Regions from separate parts of the Homo sapiens genome. Here regions 2, 3, 4, 5, 6 and 7 are each reported to be linked to region 1. The links are microRNA targets in miRTarBase. Many come from high-throughput screens and were not tested one by one. Region 1 holds a microRNA gene; each other region holds the end of a gene's coding sequence. Distances are from middle to middle.

The links. The annotated mature microRNA hsa-miR-4469 reads GCUCCCUCUAGGGUCGCUCGGA and lies in region 1 at 1,607-1,628, shown strand. An mRNA with a match to its seed (bases 2 to 7 or 8) in the 3' UTR can be bound and repressed. Matches are read on the target gene's strand: a 7mer-m8 pairs with bases 2 to 8, a 7mer-A1 pairs with bases 2 to 7 and ends in A, and an 8mer does both.
Region 2: miRTarBase lists TRIB1 as a target of hsa-miR-4469. Seed matches in the 3' UTR shown: 7mer-m8 at 2,396-2,402.
Region 3: miRTarBase lists ZDHHC22 as a target of hsa-miR-4469. Seed matches in the 3' UTR shown: 7mer-A1 at 1,200-1,206, 7mer-A1 at 1,619-1,625, 8mer at 2,376-2,383, 7mer-m8 at 2,382-2,388 and 7mer-A1 at 2,522-2,528.
Region 4: the mRNA of PAOX is a reported target of hsa-miR-4469. The part of its 3' UTR that is shown has no 7-base or 8-base seed match.
Region 5: miRTarBase lists LGALSL as a target of hsa-miR-4469. Seed matches in the 3' UTR shown: 7mer-m8 at 1,775-1,781.
Region 6: miRTarBase lists PELI3 as a target of hsa-miR-4469. Seed matches in the 3' UTR shown: 7mer-m8 at 334-340 and 7mer-m8 at 1,002-1,008.
Region 7: the mRNA of CALHM5 is a reported target of hsa-miR-4469. The part of its 3' UTR that is shown has no 7-base or 8-base seed match.

The regions. Positions count from the first base shown.
Region 1 is chr8:42,894,738-42,897,830 of GRCh38, reverse strand. It overlaps MIR4469 (microRNA 4469), which reads left to right and starts at 1,556; the gene lies at 1,556-1,634. RNF170 (ring finger protein 170) reads left to right here and starts at 1,226. Exons shown (of 7, transcript NM_030954.4): 1 at 1,226-1,347. It overlaps HOOK3 (hook microtubule tethering protein 3), which reads right to left and starts at 853. Exons shown (of 22, transcript NM_032410.4): 1 at 643-853. The coding sequence starts at 699. RefSeq lists silencers at 235-294, 305-1,094, 1,275-1,634, 1,430-1,641 and an enhancer at 1,548-2,109.
Region 2 is chr8:125,435,792-125,438,884 of GRCh38, forward strand. It overlaps TRIB1 (tribbles pseudokinase 1), which reads left to right. Exons shown (of 3, transcript NM_025195.4): 3 at 215-2,612. The coding sequence ends at 680. Among named protein-coding and RNA genes, the nearest start is that of TRIB1, 7.0 kb to the left of the region's middle.
Region 3 is chr14:77,130,850-77,133,942 of GRCh38, reverse strand. ZDHHC22 (zDHHC palmitoyltransferase 22) reads left to right here. Exons shown (of 3, transcript NM_174976.2): 3 at 1-2,673. The coding sequence ends at 260. Among named protein-coding and RNA genes, the nearest start is that of ZDHHC22, 9.4 kb to the left of the region's middle. RefSeq lists an enhancer at 1-155.
Region 4 is chr10:133,390,893-133,393,985 of GRCh38, forward strand. PAOX (polyamine oxidase) reads left to right here. Exons shown (of 7, transcript NM_152911.4): 7 at 420-802. The coding sequence ends at 563. Among named protein-coding and RNA genes, the nearest start is that of MTG1, 1.7 kb to the right of the region's middle. RefSeq lists a silencer at 3,057-3,093.
Region 5 is chr2:64,458,090-64,461,182 of GRCh38, forward strand. LGALSL (galectin like) reads left to right here. Exons shown (of 5, transcript NM_014181.3): 5 at 196-3,093. The coding sequence ends at 339. Among named protein-coding and RNA genes, the nearest start is that of LGALSL-DT, 4.8 kb to the left of the region's middle.
Region 6 is chr11:66,475,899-66,478,991 of GRCh38, forward strand. It overlaps PELI3 (pellino E3 ubiquitin protein ligase family member 3), which reads left to right. Exons shown (of 8, transcript NM_145065.3): 8 at 1-1,439. The coding sequence ends at 269. The region is part of intron 1 of DPP3-DT (DPP3 divergent transcript); the gene reads right to left. Among named protein-coding and RNA genes, the nearest start is that of DPP3-DT, 2.8 kb to the right of the region's middle. RefSeq lists enhancers at 372-1,192, 1,830-2,423.
Region 7 is chr6:116,515,429-116,518,428 of GRCh38, reverse strand. It overlaps CALHM5 (calcium homeostasis modulator family member 5), which reads right to left. Exons shown (of 2, transcript NM_153711.5): 2 at 1-2,829. The coding sequence ends at 2,440. All of the region lies in intron 3 of TRAPPC3L (trafficking protein particle complex subunit 3L), which reads left to right. Among named protein-coding and RNA genes, the nearest start is that of CALHM5, 5.3 kb to the right of the region's middle.

The sequences.
Region 1 (3,093 bases):
TGAACATGTATTTACTTCAAAGTATGAGGAATCTAAAACCGTTTAAGAATTCAAAATCAGAATCCCACGACTCTGTCCCCCAAGGCCTTCGAGTTCCATTGTTGACGCCCAGACACCTCCAGACTCCTTTAAACGTCTGCCCGACGCCTCTGACAGGCGTCCGCCCCTCGCGCACTCCCACCGCCAGCGGTGCCTTGCATCCGAAACGGGGTCCCCGGGCGCCTCCCGCATTCTCCCCACGCTCCCTCACAGGTCCTTTCAGTTCCCGGGCCGGAGCCGGGCCCGTCCTCCGCGAACGCGGCAACAAAGGCGAGGAGCGGCGGCGGGTCCTGGACGCGGGGCAGTCAGGCTCGGCCACCCCCAGAGCGCAGCGCAGCCCCAGCTGCGAGCAGCCGCACGGATCCCAGAGTCGCCCGCCGCGTTCCCAGCCCAGCCCCGGCCGGGGTCCGCCCGGAACAGCGACGCCTCAGGCCCGGCAAGTCTCTCTCGGACCCTGGGCCGAGCCTCCTCGCCCCGCCCGCCCCAGGCCCCGGATGTGACGGCACCGTCGCCCGCAGCGCTCGCCCCACGGGCCGCGCGTGGAGGGTCCCGGTAGGTGGCGGGGGGAGGGGGTCTTCCCGCCGGCCCGCGGCCCCCACGTACCCAAGTGAGGAGGCTCTCGCACAGCTCCGCCCGCTCCAGCGACTCTACGCTGAACATCTTCCCCGCCGCGGCCAGGCAGCGCCTACCGCCTGGCCAGACACCGCCGCCGCTCTGTCGGGGGATCCGGGGGCCCGCGCAGCTGACTCGGCCTCAGGCCCGCCTGCTCCTCGGATCCGGCCGCCGACTCTCGCCCAGCGCTGGCAGCGGCTCCGCACCGTCACCCCCAGCGCCCCTCCTTCTCCTTTCACTCGGGACCGCGCGCCAGCCGCGCGCGACTTCGGACACGCCCGCCGCCCCGCGTCCCCGCCCCCGGCCGCCCACACCGCTCCTCCCCAGCGCCGCCGCCCTGGCTGGAGCCGAGGCCGAGGAGCCACTGCGCACGCTCGCGCCCCGGCCGACCCGCGCCGCCGCGCCGCCGCCGCCGCCGCCGCCGCCGCCGCTGCCGCCGGGCGCGCCCCCGCCACCAGTTCGCTGCGTGTCGAGGCGAGCACGCGCTCCGCCCTGGAGGCTGCGGCGACGGGTCCTCCTCCGCCGTCCGGTCGCGCCCTCGCGGAAGCTCGGCAGTGCGCGTGCGCCCGCACCCGCACTCCAAATTAGAAAGGGGACGTCTAGTGGGTTGCCCGGGAGGGGTGGCGGGAGCGGTCCTGGAAATAATCTGTCCTCTGTCGCCGGGAACTGGCGAGGTAGTTCCTTCGCGGTGGAGAGGTACGTCCGGCGCGCGGCGGCCACGCCCACCCTATCGGGGCCCGCGGAGCCGCGGACGGCGGGGTCTGGCCTTCTTGGGGTAGCTCTGGCCGCCGAGGCTCTGCGGGGCGGCGGGAGTCGCCGCCTCCTTCCCCCCGGGCCCCTCCCTCGTCTGGAAGCCCCAGAATCGCCCCGCGGCTGTCCGGAGTCGCCGGCGACGGTGGAGGGGCCGACGCGGAGAGCGGCTCTAGGTGGGTTTGGCGGCGGCGAGGACACCGCCGCTCCCTCTAGGGTCGCTCGGAGCGTGACCCTGAGAACTCTCCTTAATGCAGGAGGGGTGTGCGCCCGCTCGCCAATCCGTAAGGACACCGGCCGACCCCGGGCCTGCGTTTCTCAGCGTTCGGAGTTGCCTTCGCTTAATGGCGAGGCGGATCGTTCTGGAGCTTCCACCTCTTTAGAGGCACGAATCTGTCTGCTGGGCTGCCGATAAATTTTTAACAGATATAGCATACGCAGAAAAGTGCATACGACATACACGTTTAAAGAAGAATTAATAAAACACCCAGATAAAAACGAAAAGGGCATTACCGGCACCCCAGGAGTTTCTCACCCATGCCCTGTGCTCCTTTCGGAGCCTGATTGTCTCCTAGCCTGACTAGTGTGATCATTTCCTTACAGCTTTACCATCTATGTGTGCATGCGATGTCGTTTTCCTTTGCCTGTTTTTGAACTTTTGCGGGTGGATCACAGTGTGTTGTTTTGTGGTTTTCAATCAGTATTAAATTGGTGTACTGTGTATGTATAGGTAATTTTAATTGTTGCCTAGTATTCCAGTGTGAATAGAACAGTGAATCCATTCTACTCTGGTTGGGCATTTTGTTCAGACTGAGGCCACTCAGAACATGGCTATAAACATTCTAGTGTACCTGGAACGTAGTGCAAATATGTTGGAATTTCCAGGACATGCACTTTGGAGTCCTTAGAGAATTGTCGATGCGTAGAGTATGCATAACTACCACCCAATGCCAAATTTTTATTTGGAGTGCAACAAAGCTAACTTCCCAAGACACACTTTGCTTTGTAGTTCCTGGAACCCCTTTCCCCCACTTTTTTTCCATTAAGAGTAGGTTTTCTCATTGAGCACTGAAAACTGCCAAGACAGCATTGAGTGGGGTTTTTTGTTGTTGTTGATGGTGGTTTTTGAGAAAGGGTCTCGTTCTGGAGTGCAGTGGCGCAATCTTGGTTCACTGCAACCTCTGCCTCCTGGGCTCAAGTGATCCTCCTACCTCAGCCTCCCAAGTAGCTGGAACCACAGGTGCAGGCCACGATGCTCAGCTAATTTTCTTATTTTTTGTAGAGAGGGGGTCTCGCTATGTTGCCCAGGCTGGTCTCAAATTCCTGGGCTCAAGTGATCCGCCCGCCTTAGCCTCCCAAAAGTGCTGGGATCAAAAGTGTGAGCCACCGAGCCTGGGTCAGCAGTGAGTTTTTAAGGTTGCCTTACAGAGTACCACTTGATAGTTGACCCCTGATCATTTAGCATTTTGTAAGTGTAAAAAAAAAAAAACTTACCTGAAGTATTCTCAATGGTCTTTTTTTCAAACATTCTTCCCTACACCAAGGGCAGAGAAACCTTTAGAAATTACACATACGTGGCCAGGCGCGGTGTCTCGCGCCTGTAATCCCAGCACTTTGGGAGGCCGAGGCGAGCGGATCACGATGTCAAGAGATCCTGGCCAACATGGTGAAACCCCGTCTCTACTAAAAATA
Region 2 (3,093 bases), 83 Mb from region 1:
GCTCTGCCGATACTTTGCAAACATTTATTGCAGTTCGTGTTAGTTTGTGAAATCAGGAGCCCTCGGTAGTTGCAGGGCACTGCTTACTGGACGAAGGGGTAAATAGCATTCCTGGAGCCTTTGCTGTTAGTGCCTGTGGGCGCTGTTATTGGGAAGGCTTTGTTTTTCATAGCAGCTGGTGTGGAAATAATGGCTTGGTTCCTCTCTCTTGCAGAACCCAGCTTAGACTAGAAAGTCTAGAAGACACACACATAATGAAGGGGGAAGATGATGCTTTGTCAGACAAACATGGCTGCCCAGCCTACGTGAGCCCTGAGATCCTCAACACCACTGGGACCTACTCCGGAAAGGCTGCGGACGTTTGGAGCCTGGGGGTGATGCTCTACACCCTTCTGGTTGGACGATACCCCTTCCATGACTCAGACCCCAGTGCCCTTTTCTCCAAAATTCGGCGTGGACAGTTCTGCATTCCTGAGCACATTTCCCCCAAAGCCAGGTGCCTCATTCGCAGCCTCTTGAGACGGGAGCCCTCCGAGAGACTCACTGCCCCCGAGATCCTACTGCACCCCTGGTTTGAGTCCGTCTTGGAACCCGGGTACATCGACTCAGAAATAGGAACTTCAGACCAGATTGTTCCAGAGTACCAGGAGGACAGTGACATTAGTTCCTTCTTCTGCTAATCCCCAAAACCTCAGAAACCTCATAATTCTTAACACCTGGCATTTCCATTTCTAAAGATGGACAGGCCCTTTGGCGTGGTACCAACCAGATAATGACTGCATCAGGATGAAAGCTGCTGAACTCGGCATGGCGCCTCCTCTTCTCTGTTGGGATGAGTGACTTTATTGATTTGAGCAGCATATGCTGTGATTGGCTGCCCTGCAAATTTGTTTCCCTTAAGGAACCCTCACCAACTATCTCTGCTGGATTTGGGAGTTCCGCATCTTTTGTGGAGGGCAGAGTATGGACATCTTACACCCGGTGGTCAAGTGTGTAATAAACTTGAGCATTCGAATGGGAGAAAAAGCAAATCGCACAATGACATATTTTGAGTAATAACCGTATTTTTCACAGGGTGACAAATTGGGCCAATAAATCTGCCATCTTTGAACTCATCTTTGGTGGCTAGACTGCTACGGCAGCTTCTCTGATGGGAAAGTTCCTTTTTTGGCTTAACACTCACCCTTTCTTCACACTCACATTTACCAATGACTCTGCTCCGTTTTTGGAGCAGACTGTTTTAAGTTGCTCAGGAGCCTGATGGAACCATGAACCGAGACTCTTCTCTGTTTCCTGCCAAGACCTCATCTGCACTAATGCCTTCTCCCTGACCTTGACACTTCCCCCTTTAGCTATAAAAGCACTTACCAGCCGAACGTGGAACAGTATCACAAAAGATTCCATCTCCCAACGATTTCAGAACTCTGAGCTCAGAGAGACTCCAGATTTTAAAAAATAATTTGAGTGCTTGGAAACTATTAGCTTTTTAAGTTCCTTCCAAATATGTTAGTACCTACCCTTTACTTTTTCCCCAAGACCATCTCAGGGTGGAGCATTCTGTCTAAGAGAAGAAAGATAAGGAGGCTCCCACCCACCTCTCCCAAGAGCAGACATTAAACATCTTTGTGCTTTGAAGAGAGTGAATTTTGGATAGTCTTGTGATTCTCAGACTAACTTCCAGAATTATACTTTAACCCCTCCCAGATATGGTCCGCCTTTGGCATTGTGTGTACATCTGCAGTTTTGCATGGTGGGTTGTTAATATTTCAAATGTGTGGTTTATGAATACGTCTGTATAATCGGCTTCTGGAGTGAAACAGCAAACCCCAAATCTTCAAAGTTGGAAGGAACTTTAAAAATCATCCGGTCCAATCTCTTTCCTCTTTCTGCCACCTCCCAAGGCAGAAATCCCCTCTTCAGCTTCTTTTGTAGGTGGGAATCCAGCCTCTGTTAGATATGTCCAGAGATGGAAACTCACTCCCCTACAAAAGATGGAGCTTAATGGAGAAATTGCAACTTTCATTAAAAAACAAATTCAGATGAAATATCAGTAACTGTCTTGGACAGTGCTGAAATCAGGTGGTTAAACGGGTAAACAAAATATACTGTATTTTGAGAAATGGCACAAAAACAGGCAGTCATCTTTAAGGGCTATGCCTAGGCAAACTACTAACATGCATTGTGAGAATGCCGTGTATACCTCACGTACTGTGTACTTTGTACATATATTTTACCTTTTATACCTATGTTCGATTTTGTTTTGTTTTGTTTTGTTCTGGCTTTGAGGCTTGTTTTGTTGTCTGTGTCTGTCTGAATAACCTGCGTGTCTAAAACCACGTGAAATGTGAATGATTATTGGCAATATTACCTTGACAGAATCATGGGACTTTGAGAAGAGGGAGGACAGAGGCCTCTGTCGCACTAACGCTCTCGTGGTTGCTCGACTGTTGTATCTGTGATACATTATCCGACTAAGGACTCTGGGCTGGCAGGGCCTTCTGCCGGGAAAGCTAGAAACACTAGGTTCTTCCTGTACATACGTGTATATATGTGAACAGTGAGATGGCCGTTTCTGACTTGTAGAGAAATTTTAATAAACCTGGTTTCGTAAATAGGTGTGGTGAATTTCTTTCGAGTTCCATCTGCTTTGCCTTTTGCAATTTCATGCAGAGGTTGCAAAGGTCTCTGGCCTCAGGACTTACAGTCTAGTTGGGGGTGAGCAGCAAGGGGAAGGTGGAAAAGTAGAGATGATGAGGATCATCGATGACCTTTGGCAGACTTGAACCCATTTGCTTTTCTCATTTCAGTGGGCAAATTTATTTTGATGGATGAAGCCCATTGGGTGTTGATACGTGCTTTGGGTTGAATTTAGACTCGGGAAACATTTTTTATTTTTTATACTCTTTCATAGCAGAATCAGAATCAAGAAACGTTTGAAGGTGAGCATTCATAAATTAACCTTGAGTTGTAAAAATCAGCTTGTCTTTTTTGGGCCGTGGACCCTTGAGAATTTGATAAAGCTATGACCACTCCTGAGAACAGTGTCACATGTATAAAACAAAATTTTGTTATCATTGCAGAGGTTCACACAGA
Region 3 (3,093 bases), not on the chromosome of region 1:
TCCTGGGTTCTGAAATGTTCGTCATCCTCATGCTCTACCTCTGGTTCGCCATCGGCCTGGCCTGCGCCGGCTTCTGCTGCCACCAGCTGCTGTTGATCCTCCGCGGGCAGACCCGCCACCAGGTGCGGAAGGGGGTGGCAGTGAGGGCCCGGCCCTGGCGCAAGAACTTACAAGAGGTCTTCGGAAAGAGGTGGCTGCTGGGCCTGCTGGTCCCCATGTTCAATGTCGGAAGTGAGAGCTCCAAGCAGCAGGATAAGTAGTAGACACTCCCGTCATTTATCTCTCTGTCTCTGTCTTGACTCCTCCTGAGCATAAAACCATGGCAGCCTTGTCTCCACCCATGACTCACTACAACCTTGTGCTGGTAAGGTCCTAGCATCTTCCCCTCACCTTCCACCCATGAGAACAGCGTGAGCTGGTGGATCATGACAAGGAGGAAAAATGTCCCCCCAGGCATTTCTAGGCTCCTCACGAGCCAGCCAGGTGGCTGCTAGCTGTTAGGCTGCCTCTGCTTTCTTTCCGTCCCCTTGGGATCCCTGCTTTCCCCCTCTTCCTGGCTCATCCATTCTCCACCGTGTCTCATTCATCACTGCTGTCTGCTAGAGCCCTTCCTCTCAGCCCCCATGTTGGGAGAGGGGAGTGGATTCTTGCTGCTGGTATGAGACTCCCTGGGACCTAGAGGCTGGCAAATGTTTAAAATCACCACGTGTAAGAGGCAGCCAAGTCAGCTCTGCCAACTGCTAGGGGAGTTGGGAAAGAGTGGGTGTGTGTCCGCATCCCCTCTGTAGGAAAAAGAACTTAGTAGCTTGCTGCTCCCTCACCACCCCCCACCAGGTTCAAGACCCTTTTTCTGGGAGACAGCAATCAATGGCCTGCTTTTTCCAAATGTTATTCCCTGTCCACCCTGCCCCATCTGGCCGGCCCAGCCCAGTCCAGGACCTGGCTGGATGCTTCCTGTCCCTGGAACTCTTCCAGCCTTTCTACTTGATCTCCAGCCCCCAGGTCTTTGCCAGATGATGGGAAGGCAAGGAAGAAGGGACAGGGAAAGATAATTACTGATAAATGAAGGGGATATTCGACTGTATAACCATATGGAAGTGTGTGTGTGTGTGTGTGTGTGTGTGTGAGAGAGAGAGAGAGAGAGATGGGTGGTGGTGAGAAGTGTTGTTAGAAACATATAGGAATAATGCCTAGGGGAAAGGGAGAAGTGAGAGGGACAATTGGGTTCATTTATGCCCTATACAAAGGGCATTCCAGCAGCTGAAACTCTTCAATGTTTGAATGGCTGCCTGTGAAGGTAGTGAGTGCCCCATCACTGGAGGTATTCCAGCAGAGTCTAGGCAGTCGTCTGCCAGGCATGCTGTGGAAGGGATTTCTGTACAGGGTCATTCTAGGTGAGCTTACACATTCCTTCCAACCCCAAGGTTCTGATGTCCTGGTTGTGATTGCTGGACCCAGAGGCAAGATCTGCAGAGATGCCTGTGAGATATTTGCTTTCCTAGAGGGGAGTGTGGGCATGGGAGGGGTCTGAAAATCAGGACCCAACCCAGCCACTGAAGAGAGAGTCTCTGCAGAGACAGGGCTACCTGGGTGGTTGAGGGGACTGACATTTGAGGACAGGGAGATGGAGCAGTGTCATTGTCAGTGGCAGGGCATGGGGGGCAGTGGTGAGCTAAGGCTGAGGAGTGGAGATGACCAGAATATAAGGGTGCAATTCCCAGACCATCCCTGCGCATCTGACTGACTCCGGTGGAGGCACTGCTGTGTGTTTTCTGAAACCTAGAGGACCAGACCTCTGGGGCATATAAGGGAGTAGGGACAACACAAGTGCCCCCTCCTGACTGGGTCCCAAAGCCAATATGACATCCATGCAGGCAGCAGTGCTGAATCCATGCCCTGCAATGTCCAACCGCCAACTGCAGTGACCCGCTGATAGCTGCGCAACAGCCTGGGTTCTTGAGCAGAGATTGGGAGGACTTTACTGTGGTTCTGCCTTCACACCCCCTAGAGAGCTAATGTAGTATTGGCTCCACCTGCTCACATTTCTCCCTCCCATACTCATTCCTTCACTCATCCATCCTACGTATATTTATTGAGTGCCAACTACGTTCCCAGCCTCTTCCAGGCACTGGCAATGCAGTGATGAACAGGATGACAAGATTCATGCCATCAGGGGCACCTTGTCACTGCCGTCTGTGCACTGATTCACACTCCCTGCAAAATGGTCACTCTGCCATCTTGGTGGTTGGTGGGGCAGGTCATTTGGAAATAAAGAATGTGATAGAGATGGCTGAAGAGGGGAAGCCTAGGCTGCCTCAATGGAGGAGTCGCTGGGGGCATTTTCACCCACAATTCTGGCCATACTTAAGCAATGGGAGGGAGAGGGAGGAGGGGAAGATCTGGGCAATTTTGGCCTTGACTCTTTCCTGGCTCCAGAGCTCAAGCTTAGAAGCCAGCCCTGCTATTTCCAGCCTCCTGAAGGCTCAGCACGGTGAGGCCTGACATCCTGGGGAAGGGCAACAGGGAGACCTACAGGATGTTGGCTGCTTGCAGACTGGTCAATGGGGGATGACGGTGGGGAGGTTGCCAGATGTGAGACTTGAGTAGCATTTGTACACATGGCCCTGTATTGTCCTTGAAGAACATCAATAAAATATATGGTTTTAAATTGGATTTGATATGATTGTATGGGCACTGTTGGTAGCAGGGCTGGACTGTACTGATGCAGCCATACTAGCTATTCAAATATTTAAAATAAGTATTGAAAATACTAAGAAATTCTTACAACTAAGAAAGTTGGTAAACAACCATGGCTCAGATTCTCTGAGTATCCTACCCCTTCTGCCCCTGCTCCTCCCTGGGGACCCTGGATTCACTCCACAATCCAGCAACTAAAGTGATCATTCCTGGCACATGCATGGGGCCCCCCAGCCCTGCTGCAGCCCTCAGTCAGAGTCCATTGTGATTTGTCAGGGCTGGGCTGTGTGGTGCTAAATAGGTGTCACCTCTGGTTGGTAACCAGAGGCTTCAGTGCTGGGTTGGTAACCAGAGGCTTCAGTGCTGGGGTCCATGGACCCACAGGGACCAGAGATG
Region 4 (3,093 bases), not on the chromosome of region 1:
GTTTTCTCTAAAAGCTGTTCACACCTGAGCTGCGGGGTGCAGTGGCTTCCTTTCCCACCCATTGGTGGATGCGTGTGAGCCGTCTTCCCACCCGTTGGTGGATGCGTGTGAGCCGTTTTCCCGCCCGTTGGTGGATGCGTGTGAGCCGTTTTCCCGCCCGTTGGTGGATGCGTGTGAGCCGTTTTCCTGGCTGTTGATGGATACATGTGAGCTGTTTTCCTGCCCGTTGGTGGATGTGTGTGAGCTGTTTTCCTGGCTATTGGTGGGTACACGTGAGCCCTTTTCTCGTCCGTTGGTGGAGGTGTGTGAGCTGTTTTCCTGCTTCTTGGTGGATGCTTGTGAGCCATTTTCTGTGTTTCCTTGCCCAGACCCTGCTGTCTGAATTGCATCCCCATTCTAACCCTGGCTCTTCTTTGCAGCTCCAGATCCTGTTTGCGGGGGAAGCCACACATCGCACGTTTTACTCCACGACGCACGGGGCTCTGCTGTCGGGATGGAGGGAGGCCGACCGCCTCCTCAGTCTGTGGGCCCCGCAGGTGCAGCAGCCCAGGCCCAGGCTCTAGCTGGGCCCAGCCTACTCTGTTCCACCCGTGTCGGGGGTAGGCTGGGACCCTCATTTCTTCTGACAGATTTCAGTCTGGCTTGAAATTTGGGGATGTTAATGAGGGTCCTCTGGTTTTTGGTAACCAGGGCCACCTTCTCAGTTCTTGTGTCTGTTATTGGAGTCTGGCCAGGGTTGACTTGAGCTGAGACACCAGATGCTCACGGAGATGCTGGACACATAAAGCAAGTTACAGCCACAGCTCCCAGAGCCATCTTTCCTGCCTTGAGGCTGTCCTGTCCTTCCTGCCTTGGGGCTCCAGCATCTGCTGCTGTTGTCTTTGTCTTGCTCCGGGCCCAGGTTGCACAGGGCCCTGTGTCTCCAATCCCCACAACCACACATGGCCCCACACTCTGGGTTCCCTGAACTCTGGGTCCTGTAGTTGCTTCTCGTGCCCCTGCATTCTCGTGGCTGCTGCCTGGGATGACAGCATAGCTGACAACCCTCCTCTTGCTCATCAACTGATGCTGCATCAGGCGCCCACTTCACAGGTTCGCAGGGCACTGGGGAGATGAGGGGTGCCCTGCCCTGCCCTGAGGCCGGGGGTTTTCTGGAGGAAGTGAATACATAATAAGGCCTGAAAAGAGAAACGGTGCCCAGCCCATGGGAGCCAGGGAGTGTGTGGGGCGTGGGCAGTGCTGGGGTGAGTGTGCTGGGTGCTGGGGGGTGTTGGGGTGGGGGCAGTGCTGGGGTGCTGGGGGGTGTTGGGGTGTGGGTAGTGTTGGGTGCTGGGGGGTGTTGGGGTGAGTGTGCTGGGTGCCGGGGGATGTTGGGGTGTGGGCAGTGCTGGGGTACCACGTGGTATTGGGGTGAATGTGCTGGGAGTCCAGGCCCCTCTCCGGCCCCTCCACCCCAGCCTGGATCTGCAGGGCTCCTCTCTTCTCACCCTCTGGTCTCTGTTCAAATTGCCCCTCCTAGGATGTTCCCTGACCCCACCCTCCCGAGCCCCAGCCTCCCTCTGTAGCCAGCAGCCCCACCTGCATTTGCTGTGTCACCAGACTGTTCTCTCTGGGGACACCTGCCCATCAGACGCCTGGGAGAGAAATTCAGATTCCACAGGGTTTTATTGTGGTTTTGTGCTCCTAGGACCATGAGGGAATGCAGCTTCCTTAAAGTACAAAAATCTTTATCATTGACATTTAGGGTTTCATCAATTCTGTATCCCAGGGAGAAAGGCAGCAAGACCCAGGCTGCCCCCTCTGGGTGTGAGGGACCGGCTTGGTGAGGAGGGGGCTTGGGGGCATTGACCTAGCAGGAGGCCCTGACTGCCCCCACTCAGCCCAGAAACCACCTGGGAGGCTTCTGTCTTCCACGGAGGGGCCACTCTCTCATGCCCAAAAATATTTACAGCTAGGCGTTAGGGTATTAGGTGGTTTAAGAACATCAGAACCATGGCAATATTTTTGTACTTAGAATTTGAGCATGTTTGGTATTTTCAGTAGCTTGTTTAAAAAATTCCAGTAGAGGCTGGGTGCCATGGCTCATGCCTGTAATTCCAGCACTTTGGGAGGCTGAGGTGGGCAGATCACCTGAGGTCAGAGTTCGAGACTAGCCTGGCCAACATGGTGAAACCCCATCTCTACTAAAAATACAAAAAAAGTAGCCGGGCGTGGTGGTGCGCACCTGTAGTCCCAGCTACTCAGGAGGCTAAGGCAGGAGAACTGCTTGAACCCCGGGAGGCGGAGGTTGCAGTGAGCCAAGATCACGCCACTGCACTCCAGCCTGGCGACAGAGCGAGACTCCGTCTCAAAAATAAAAATTCCGGTAGAGTAATACTCTTGTAACGCAGTGTGCAATTGAGCAGTTGCTGACTGCTGATTTAGAGTTGAAATCCGACTATATTTATGTCTAGTCTTGGACAGTGGAGAATATTTCAGCCTCATTAATTAATCGGTTTAATTTAGCAGAACTGCAGTCAGTATTTGGAAACAGTTTGTTATATTAAACCCTGAAGTACTTGAGGCTGCGCGCGGTGGCTCATGCCTGTAATCCCAGCATTTTGGGAGGCCGAGACAGGTAGATCACTTGAGGTCAGGAGTTGGAGACCAGCCTGGCCAACATGGTGGAACTCCATCTCTACTAAAAATACAAAATCAGCCGGCGTGGTGGCAGGCGCCAGTAATCCCAGCTACTCCGGAGGCTGAGGTGGGAGAATCCCTTGAACTCAGGAGTTGGAGGTTGCAATGAGCGAGATCGTGCCACTGCACTCTTGGGCAACAGAGCGGAGACTCCGTCTCAAACAAAACAAAACAAACAAAAACCCTGAAGTACTTAAAAAGAAAATGAAGAGATTACATTTATAAGGTAAATTTAAAGTATTTGAGAGATTTTAACCAAATTGTAAAAAGAGATTGCTAAATTTTTACACTTATACTCAGGATATGCTTAAGGGAGAACGATGATTTTTAATATTTAATGAATGTTAATAAATCTGCGAATTACTTAAACCCACAAAACCCAGGAACCTCCCCGTCCCCCCGGGTCTCCTCGCA
Region 5 (3,093 bases), not on the chromosome of region 1:
ATTCTACACAGGAATCAGAAATTTTGGAGGTAGAGCCCAACAATCTGTGTTCTAACAAGCCCTCTGCAGGTCTCAATGCATTCTGATGTTTGTGAACCACTGAAGATACTGCCTTTCTTTCTCTAAAATGAAGTATTGTTTGTTTTCCCCAGTAGCGTTCATTGAAATTGTGGATTATTATTTTGTTTCTTCCAGGTGGAAATTCTTTGTGAGCACCCACGTTTCCGAGTGTTTGTGGATGGACACCAACTTTTTGATTTTTACCATCGCATTCAAACGTTATCTGCAATTGACACCATAAAGATAAATGGAGACCTCCAGATCACCAAGCTTGGCTGATTTAAACCACCTCTATTTCAAATAGGATCACGTGCCACAACTATCTGACTGTTGGTCTGGAAGAAGTGTCCTAGCAAGATCTGGAGACTTAAAAAGAAAACAAAAACAAATGGCAAGTTTCACTTAAGGGTGGTTTGCCCTTAAGAAGAAAGCTGTTGGGACAAAGACACCGAGCCATTATACCCAGAATAAAATAATACATTTATGCTGGATTTTATTCAGACCAAACTAAAATGGATTTGTGATGATTTGTGATTTGGTAGCAAATTATTCATCTTTTCAAAGCAAGGCAATGCTTAGAAACAGAAGTGCTAAAGACACTTAAAAAGCCAACAACAACGGTACAGTGAAATCAATGCATTTCTGCACTAAAGTGGAATTGTGTAGCACAACCAATATTTTAGTCAGGGTATTTACATAGAATGTAGGTTGTTCAAGGTTTGACTTTTTTTTTGTTTTTTGTTTTTGTTTTTGTTTTTGTTTTGCACAGCATAATGTTAATTCAGATTGTTGAAGCTTTCTTGTAGTTATTTATTTATACTCAATGTATGTATTAAAGAATGAACAATGTCTCAAGAACAGCAAGTTGTAAACTTTTGAATGTATAAATATCTTAGGTCCAAGGGGAGAAAATTACATATTACAATTATGAAACAGGTGAATTTCTGCTTTAAAGAATTGAGATTCTCCATACCCCTAAACTTAGGATCTCTTGATATAAACTGCTGTAAGTGCTTTTGGGAAACCTTTGCAAAACCATTTTGATAAAACTGCTTTCCAAGTTATTGTTGGTTATGTAAAATTCTATTTACATTGCTTTTTCTCCTTACTGGGAATTAGCACATTATTGGCTTCCTTAAGACTAATTATTTCTCTCTTGATTTATATAATAGCTCATTAAGTTGTTATTAATCAAAAACACAAAGAGGTGATTGCTTAGACAATTTTTAAAGTGACTATAGTATAAACTTTTAAAAGAATAATATGAAAATGACTGTGGAATGCAGTGTAAAGCAGAAGCAAACGGCCCTGAATAACTTACTTGGAAGTAATTTATATCAACTTAAGCTGTTAGCTCATTGTATAACTTTTCTTATGTGACCCTCACCAATATCCCTAAGTAATGCCTTTGGAAGCTTCAGAGTAGAAGATGCTTCCTACTGTGTTGGCTCTGAGGAGATAGTAGGATTAGATAGGATCCAGATTAGGAAATGATCCAGTTAGTTTATCTGAAAGGTTAACTCCCAGGACTCCAGGTCTTTGAATCCAGCCAGTAGAGTGAATGCTTCCAATTAAGCTGTAGGTGTTACCCTGCACTTACGGAACTGATCAAACAGGTGACTCCAACAGGAGGTTGCAGTACTGTAAACGTCACCGCAAGGCAAGGGATGCTTAAAGTCCTGGGTTCTGGACTTTAAAAGCTACATTGGCCCTGGAGGGAGGGACCCTTGGCATTGCTTTGATCAGGTAGTGAGGGAAGACAGGGTTCTGGGGTGGGGGTGTATTTATATATAATTTAGGTTTTGTTTGTACAGCATACTGTGTCTTGTAATGACACATCCTTGTCCTGCTTTCCTTTTTTGAGTTTTTTTTTTTTTTTTACACAACATGCAGAGGCACTGAAGTGACCATGTCATTTTCAAGTGTCAAGAATGTAGACAGTGTTTCAGTACCAAAGTCTAAAATAAACTAAAATTATGAATTTTTTATAGGTGATACATTTGGATTCTTCTCAACTTTGAAACTGTTTAGCACAGTTCCATTGTATTATATAAGAAGACACTGTATCCAACAAGACTGGCTGTACATTGAAAAGCTTTATGTACCAGCCAACTTATTTAACCATATTCAGCCTGTTCCGTGGGGGCTGTTCTGTGGTTCCAGGTATTTTCAAGCCTGTGATTAACTTCTCATGGCTTGTCACTTAAAAGTCCCTAAATTTGAGAGACTTAAAGGGCACCTTGAAATACATTTGTGGAGTTTTGATCCAACTTATGGTGGAAGAGCCCCATAGGAAGACTGTTTTGAGTGGCCAACCATTCCCACCCACTGCATAATTCAGCAGAAACTAGAGGAGCAGGGCGTGTACTGATTGGAATTGACACGCTTATTCTGTCTACCTATCAGCTAACTCATTAGCAGCCAAGCCCTTAGGCAGCTTAGTGTGAAAATACAATGTTAACTGTTTGTTTCTCTGTGAGGTTAGTGGGAACCGCTTGGATAAGCCTATTGGGATTAATCTAAATGATGTGATGATTTGATTCAGGTATAGCCCAAATTAGTAAGGGGCTTTAGCTGTAAACTGAAAACAATATTCACACCCTCTCCTGGGCCTGTAAGGTCTAAGGTGAGAATTTCAGGATGGAAAATGCAATGTAAAGCTTCCACAGGAAAGTATTCGGGTATGTAAGGTGTTATTTCTGACCAGAGCCCTAGTTCTGCAATAACCAAAACCAAGGAGTATAAATAACAATCAGGCTCTGGGGGAATAGAAAGCAGGCTTTAGACAATCTGTCCATTTCTACAGTAAAATTGGAGTGAGTGTGTATATCTACTTAAAACTTAATAGAAGTGACTTCTACTTTTTGGGCTATTCCAGAAGTATTTTAAAATTATTATTTAAAATTTTGAAGCCCCATTTCAAATCTTGCCGACCTTAGTTCAAAGCCCCCTGAGAGATCACTTTTAGAATTGAGGATTTGTTAAAATGGCAAGTCATTTCATTTGTGTTAAAAAGAAAATACCCAAAAGGAA
Region 6 (3,093 bases), not on the chromosome of region 1:
AGCGCGAATGTCCTCTCTGCCGCCTTGTGGGGCCTTATGTGCCTCTATGGCTTGGCCAGGAGGCCGGCCTCTGCCTGGACCCTGGGCCGCCTAGCCATGCCTTTGCACCTTGCGGCCACGTCTGCTCTGAGAAGACTGCCCGCTACTGGGCCCAGACACCACTGCCCCACGGCACCCATGCTTTCCATGCCGCCTGCCCCTTTTGCGGGGCCTGGCTTACCGGCGAGCATGGCTGCGTCCGCCTCATTTTCCAGGGCCCGCTGGATTAGGCTCCCTGGGGCCCCCTGCTGCTGTGCCCACCTGCCCACCCAGGTCCCCACCTCCTGCAGCCCAGAGGGAGCTCTGCATGTGGGACACTCCCTGCTGGCACAGCCACACCAGATGGACATGTTGGATGGGCTGTGCCCTTCCCCCCAACTGTGGCCCCCCAAGGAGGTCCCCAAGATCTCCACCCCAGTCATGCTGATGGGGCCTTCAGCACCAGCTCTGTCCTGGGTCGATGGAGGAAAGCCCAGCCCCATGGCCTTGCCCTTCCTGGGGCATCCCACATCGTGCCGCCGACACTGTGTGCCCCTGGGGGAGTGAAGGGGCCAGGGGCCTTTGACCCCCAGCTTAGGCTGGCTATGCCCTGAGCCTGCCAACCCAGTTTCAGACACTCATCCTTCATCCTTCCTGCTGCCGCCCTGGGTTCCTCTATAAACCTCGCTGCTCAGCTGCCCCCACAAGTCCCACATGCCCCGCATGCGTGCAATGCCTCCAGCCCCCAAGTGAGTGGTGGGTGGGTGGCAGGCTGGGCCTAGCACTTGCTGATAGCCACTATGGGCTCGACTCTGTGCTAAGTGGTATCTGGGGACACAGAGGCAATCAGACCTGGTTCCCCCCCTGGTGGAGTTCACAGTCTAGTGGAGGACAGACTGTTAACAAATGGCAACACGGCTTCATGCGTGCCAGGATCAGAGTACAAATCAGGCTGTGGCAGGCCTCACTGGTAATGGAAAAGTGAGGGAGGCTTCACGGAGGAGGTGTCATAGGAGCTCAGCCTCAACGGCTGCTCGGAACCCTCCGAGTCCACAAGATGGGAAGCAAGTCCACAAGATGGGAAGCGTGCTCTATACAGAAGGGAGGGCCTGTGCACAGGCTCAGGTGTCAGTAAGCCAGAAATCCAGGGACAGAGTCAGGATGGCTGGAGCATGGACTGCGGGGGGAACAGAGAAGGGGGTGGAGCAAAAGGTTGGGACCATGTGACCAGGGAAGATGCTGGATGGAGGATTCTGAACCTCATTTGTGGACGGTCAGGAGTCAACAAAGGGAGGAGAGAGGACTCACTGGTCAAGAGTGTCGGCTGTGACACAAGGGCCATCATCCCTGAATGCCCACCATGTGCCCCGCACTGTGCTGATGATGATAATAATAACTACGTCCATTGAGCACTCTCCAGACACCGGGCTCTGCTTCTTGGAGGTTTTGTTATTTAATCCTCATAGTAACCCAAGAAGGGAGGTGTTGCCATTTTTGTCTCTGAGGAGATGAGGGCAGATGCACCAAGTCACACAACTAGAAAGTGGCCAAGCCAGGATTTGAATCCACAGCTGCTCCTCTCCATCACAGTGTTGCTTTCCTTCAACAGAGGTGGGGGTGAACCAAGCAGGGTTTTGGATACTAGATTGGTGGACACCCACCTGCTTCGTGCCCAGCCCTGCGCAGGGCCCCTGCAGTGGGCAAGGCCGGGCCTCTTGCAGCCCATGGTCTGCAGAGGGACCTACCCGTGCTTGTGTTGGAAGCTGGCCCCCACACCTGTGCTGGCCACCTGTACCCCAGGCCAGGATGCAGTGGGCTATTAGCCAGGCTGGAAGTGTTCAGAGGAGTGAGAACCAGGGGCTCTAGAAGGCCCAGGGAGGACCTGGAGCCTGAGCCAAGTCTTGAATGGCAGAGCATCTCCAGAGGCAGAGAGGAGTTGGGAGGGCAGCCCAGGTGAGGGGAACAGCATGGTGTGGCAGGGAACATGCCTGGTGTGGAGGGGGGCAGCAAAAAGGAATGGGGGGTAGGGAAGGTTGCTGGGGCCTGGTGGGCCTTGATTGCCATGGAAGCCAAGCCTGAACTGGATTCCTATTCATCCTGGCCACAGGTGGGCGTGTTGCTGGGGTTGCCCCAGACCATTCCTGCAGGGAGCGAGCCAGGAAGACAGGCAGACGGCTGTTCTGGAGATGAAGAGAAGAAGGCTCTGAGTATAGGCCTGACCTGGGCATCGTCCCCAATAGATGACAGAGCCTAGGGAAGTACAGATTCCAAGGGGAGGGATGGACCTGACCAAGGCCACACAGCTGGTTGCGGCCAGGGAGATCAGACCTGGGTTATTGAGAAGACAGAGGGCACCCGAATGTGATGAGAGAAGGAGGAGGGTGTGATCAGATTCTTGCTTCCAGAGCATGGCACTGCTGCAGTGGGGGTGAAGGGGAGGGTGGGGATGCTGCAGGAGGTGTGGGAGCATTCCAACTTCTCTCCCCTCAACATACACACAACACACAAAGCACTCAAAATCCAACTCTTCCAAGTTCTCTCTTCTGACCCTGTTGGGAACCAGGCAGGGGAACATTCTGATCCCATTTCCAGTGGGGAACCTCAGACCCTAGGAGGAAAGACCAGCAAAGGGCACCACAGTAGATGCTGGGGAGGATTCAGAGGTATTGGTGGAGGAGGTCAGAGCCCTGGTCTTGTCCCAGCTCTGCCTTTGCCAGCTGTTAGAGCCTCAGTTTCCTCAGTGCTAAAGGGGATAACAGTCACTACCTCGCCAGGTGGTTGTGAATATACAGAGAGCACCTGTAACACAGTTGATTCGTAACTGTTGCTCCTCACCGACCCCTTTTGCATTCCCATGGGGAAGAGCCAAGGCTGGGGAGTTATGACTCCAGTGATAGACTGCTCCATGTGAGTGACTGTGTGTGTGTATCTCTATGTTGGGGCCAGGGATATCTGAACTGTGTGGTGTTATAGGAGTCGGCGAACCTCTTAGCCTCAGTTTCCCTATCTGTACAATGGGTAAAGTGATCATACCTCAGGATTTTTGCAAGAATTAAATGAGGTCCTCCATGCCAA
Region 7 (3,000 bases), not on the chromosome of region 1:
TTGTACGTAGAAAAAACAAACCTTTTTTTATTGACATTCACACTCAACACTGAACACTCCTTGCCACCAACTGTGTGGGTTTTCTCCCACACTGGCCAATTCTCCAATACCAACTGGATATCATACAATTCAATTCTGGCATTAATCGGCATTAAGTGCAGATCCCCAGCAGGTTAAGAGCTCAGTCCCATAAGATCTCCCCCAACTTCAGACACCAGTCACAAGCAGTAGGTTCCAAAGTTACTCACATCTTCTATCTGACGTGGCTACAAAGCAGAGGTTCCCATGATTTCCTTCTCAGATTTCACCATTTGCTAGAGTAGCTCACAGAACTCAGGAAAGGGCTTTATTTACTATCATCAGTCTATTATAAAATAATATAACTCAGAAACAGCCAGATGGAGGCACAGGAACAGGTTTGGGGGAAGGGGCACGGAGCTTCCACGGCCCCTTTGGGCTCACCACTCCTCATGTATTGAGCAATGCAGAAGCTCTCTGAACCTTGTCCTTTAGATTTTTATGGGAAGCTTTATTCTTAGGCATGATTGATTAAATCATTATCCATTTGTGATCGACTCAACCTTCAGCCCCTCTTCCTTCCCCAAGGTCTGGGAGTGGGGCTGAAAGTTCCAACCCTCTAAACACATGGTTGGTTCCCGTGGCAACCAGACCCTATTCTGAGGCCATTCAGAAGCCCCTAACTATCAGTCATCTCATTCGCGTACTACCAGACACATCACTTGGGAGGTCCCAAAGGTTTTAGGAGCTCTGCACCAGGAATAGGAAGAAAGACCAAATACATATTTCTTCTTGTAAATGACAATAACATAGATATGTTCTGGGTCCTATACTTGTAGGATTCAGTTTGCCATCATGTTTCATGTTAATAAGAAGTTAATATTCAGCTTTCTCAAACTAAGAGACATAGACTACCACTGTAAGGTATGAGCCACAGCACAAAACATAGTTCTTTTTTAAAGCACAATTCTTCTCAGAGATTTAAGGAGAATTTATGTACATATATACATACACATATATATGTACATACTAACATGGATATAGTACATTGTAGAATGCAAGATTTGCATTATTTCTGATAAATGTAAGACTGCAATGCAGTTTTATGCCAGTACTGCTTTGGACAGTGTCCCCAGACCTTTAGCCAAGGTCAATTTACCCTACTATAGTCTGAATGTTTGTGTCTCCCCCAATTTCATATGTTGAAATCTTAACCCCCAAGCTGATAGTACTAAGAAGCAGAGCCTTGAGAAGTAATTGGGTCATGAAGGTGGAGCCTCCAGGAATGGGATTAGTGCCTTATAAAAATGCTCAAGGGAGCTTATTTGCACTTTCCACCATGGAAGGACACTGAGAAGTCAGCAAGCAGTTTGCAACCTGGAAAATTGCTCTCACCAGAACCTGAGCATGCTGGCAGCCTGACCTCGGACTTCCCAGCCTCCAGAACTGTGAGAAATAAATTTCTATTTTGTATAAGCCACCTATCTATGATATTTTGTTATAGTAGCCCAAACGCACTAAGACATACCCACGGCCTAGTAAGCACTGTGCCTAAGGACCATAATACTTGTAAGGGCCCACTAAAATGTTTTTAATTTCTTTTAAAATCAGAAGAAAATACATAAACTTTTAGGTTGAAGAAAATGCTAATATATTCACCTTTTATCAATGCAGTTATAAATATATATTTCTGTGTGTGTGTATATATATATATATATATATATATATATATATATATATATATATATATTTGTTACTACTATTTTGAATGTAGGAAATGGTTCGCAAAGGCAAAAGTACATAAAGCCCACAAAAATTATGATGCAGCCCTGCTTCCAGGGGAGTATTTTCAGTATACAGTGAAAACATGTGAAAAACTTTCAATTTTAGGTATCATATTCTTGCAACTTGTGATTTTTGAGAACTGAGATCTTCAGATCCTGAGGGAATGAATTCCACAATTTCATACATCCTTAAAAGTGTAGATTTGTAGGACAGAGACTCCTGCTGATCACACTGCAGGAGCCACTGTGTAGGGCAACCTATGTTAAGAGTAACTTGCTCACTCACAAGCCATTGCTTCTGCCCCTAAATTCTGCAACCAATATTTACAGAGACTGATGAGCCCTCTCACATGAGTCTGTCTGTTGAATGATAAAATCTTAGATCTTGGAGCAACATTTAGGCCTACTGAGCCCCTCTCCACCAATGCAAGAGCACCTTTGTCACCCCTCAGCATCAATTTGAGCACATCCTGATGTTCCACTTGAGAGCTTCAAAGCAGTTTCCTTTGTGTTATTGTCTTGTAAACATACTCCAAATGTAAGAAAATACAGAGACACACAGGTTGCTGGTGATACGTTAGGAGGATCACAGAATGAGCATGCCACTCAACACCATGAGTCATTGATGGTGGATGAGCTACATATTGTGGGCAGTACCCACAAGGACCATTGTCGTCTCATCATCCTCAGGGCTAAGTTGCAGACCATTGTCCACCACTCTGTGGAGGGTGCTATAGTGTTGCTGGCTTTGGTGGAAAGAATGCAGCTCTGAAGCAGCCTCCCAGGCAGCAAACGTAGGCATGGGAAAAGGATCTGGCCTCTTGTTTTCAAAAAAACATTTCAGGTTCCTCTCGCTCAGCTTGTTGGCATAGTCCAGAAATGTATTTTCCAACTGCTCCTTCTCCTTTTGTGCATATGTCTTCCAAAAACTCAGCTGAAGGTAGCTAACTTTAGATCGGCAGCGAGCATAACATGTGGTGAGCAGAGAGAAGAAAGACGCTGAACAAATCAGGCACCATCCTAGAATCTTAAGAAGAAAGAAATATTGAGTACACACGTGAAAGCAAAGCCATTTAGGGAGCTGGGGTATTATTGAGAAGTGTATAGCTAAATTATTACCACAGTCTTTGACATACCTCATTTGAAATCATTCATCTTAATTTTTAAACACTTTAAACTCACTTTTTGAATTTATTAG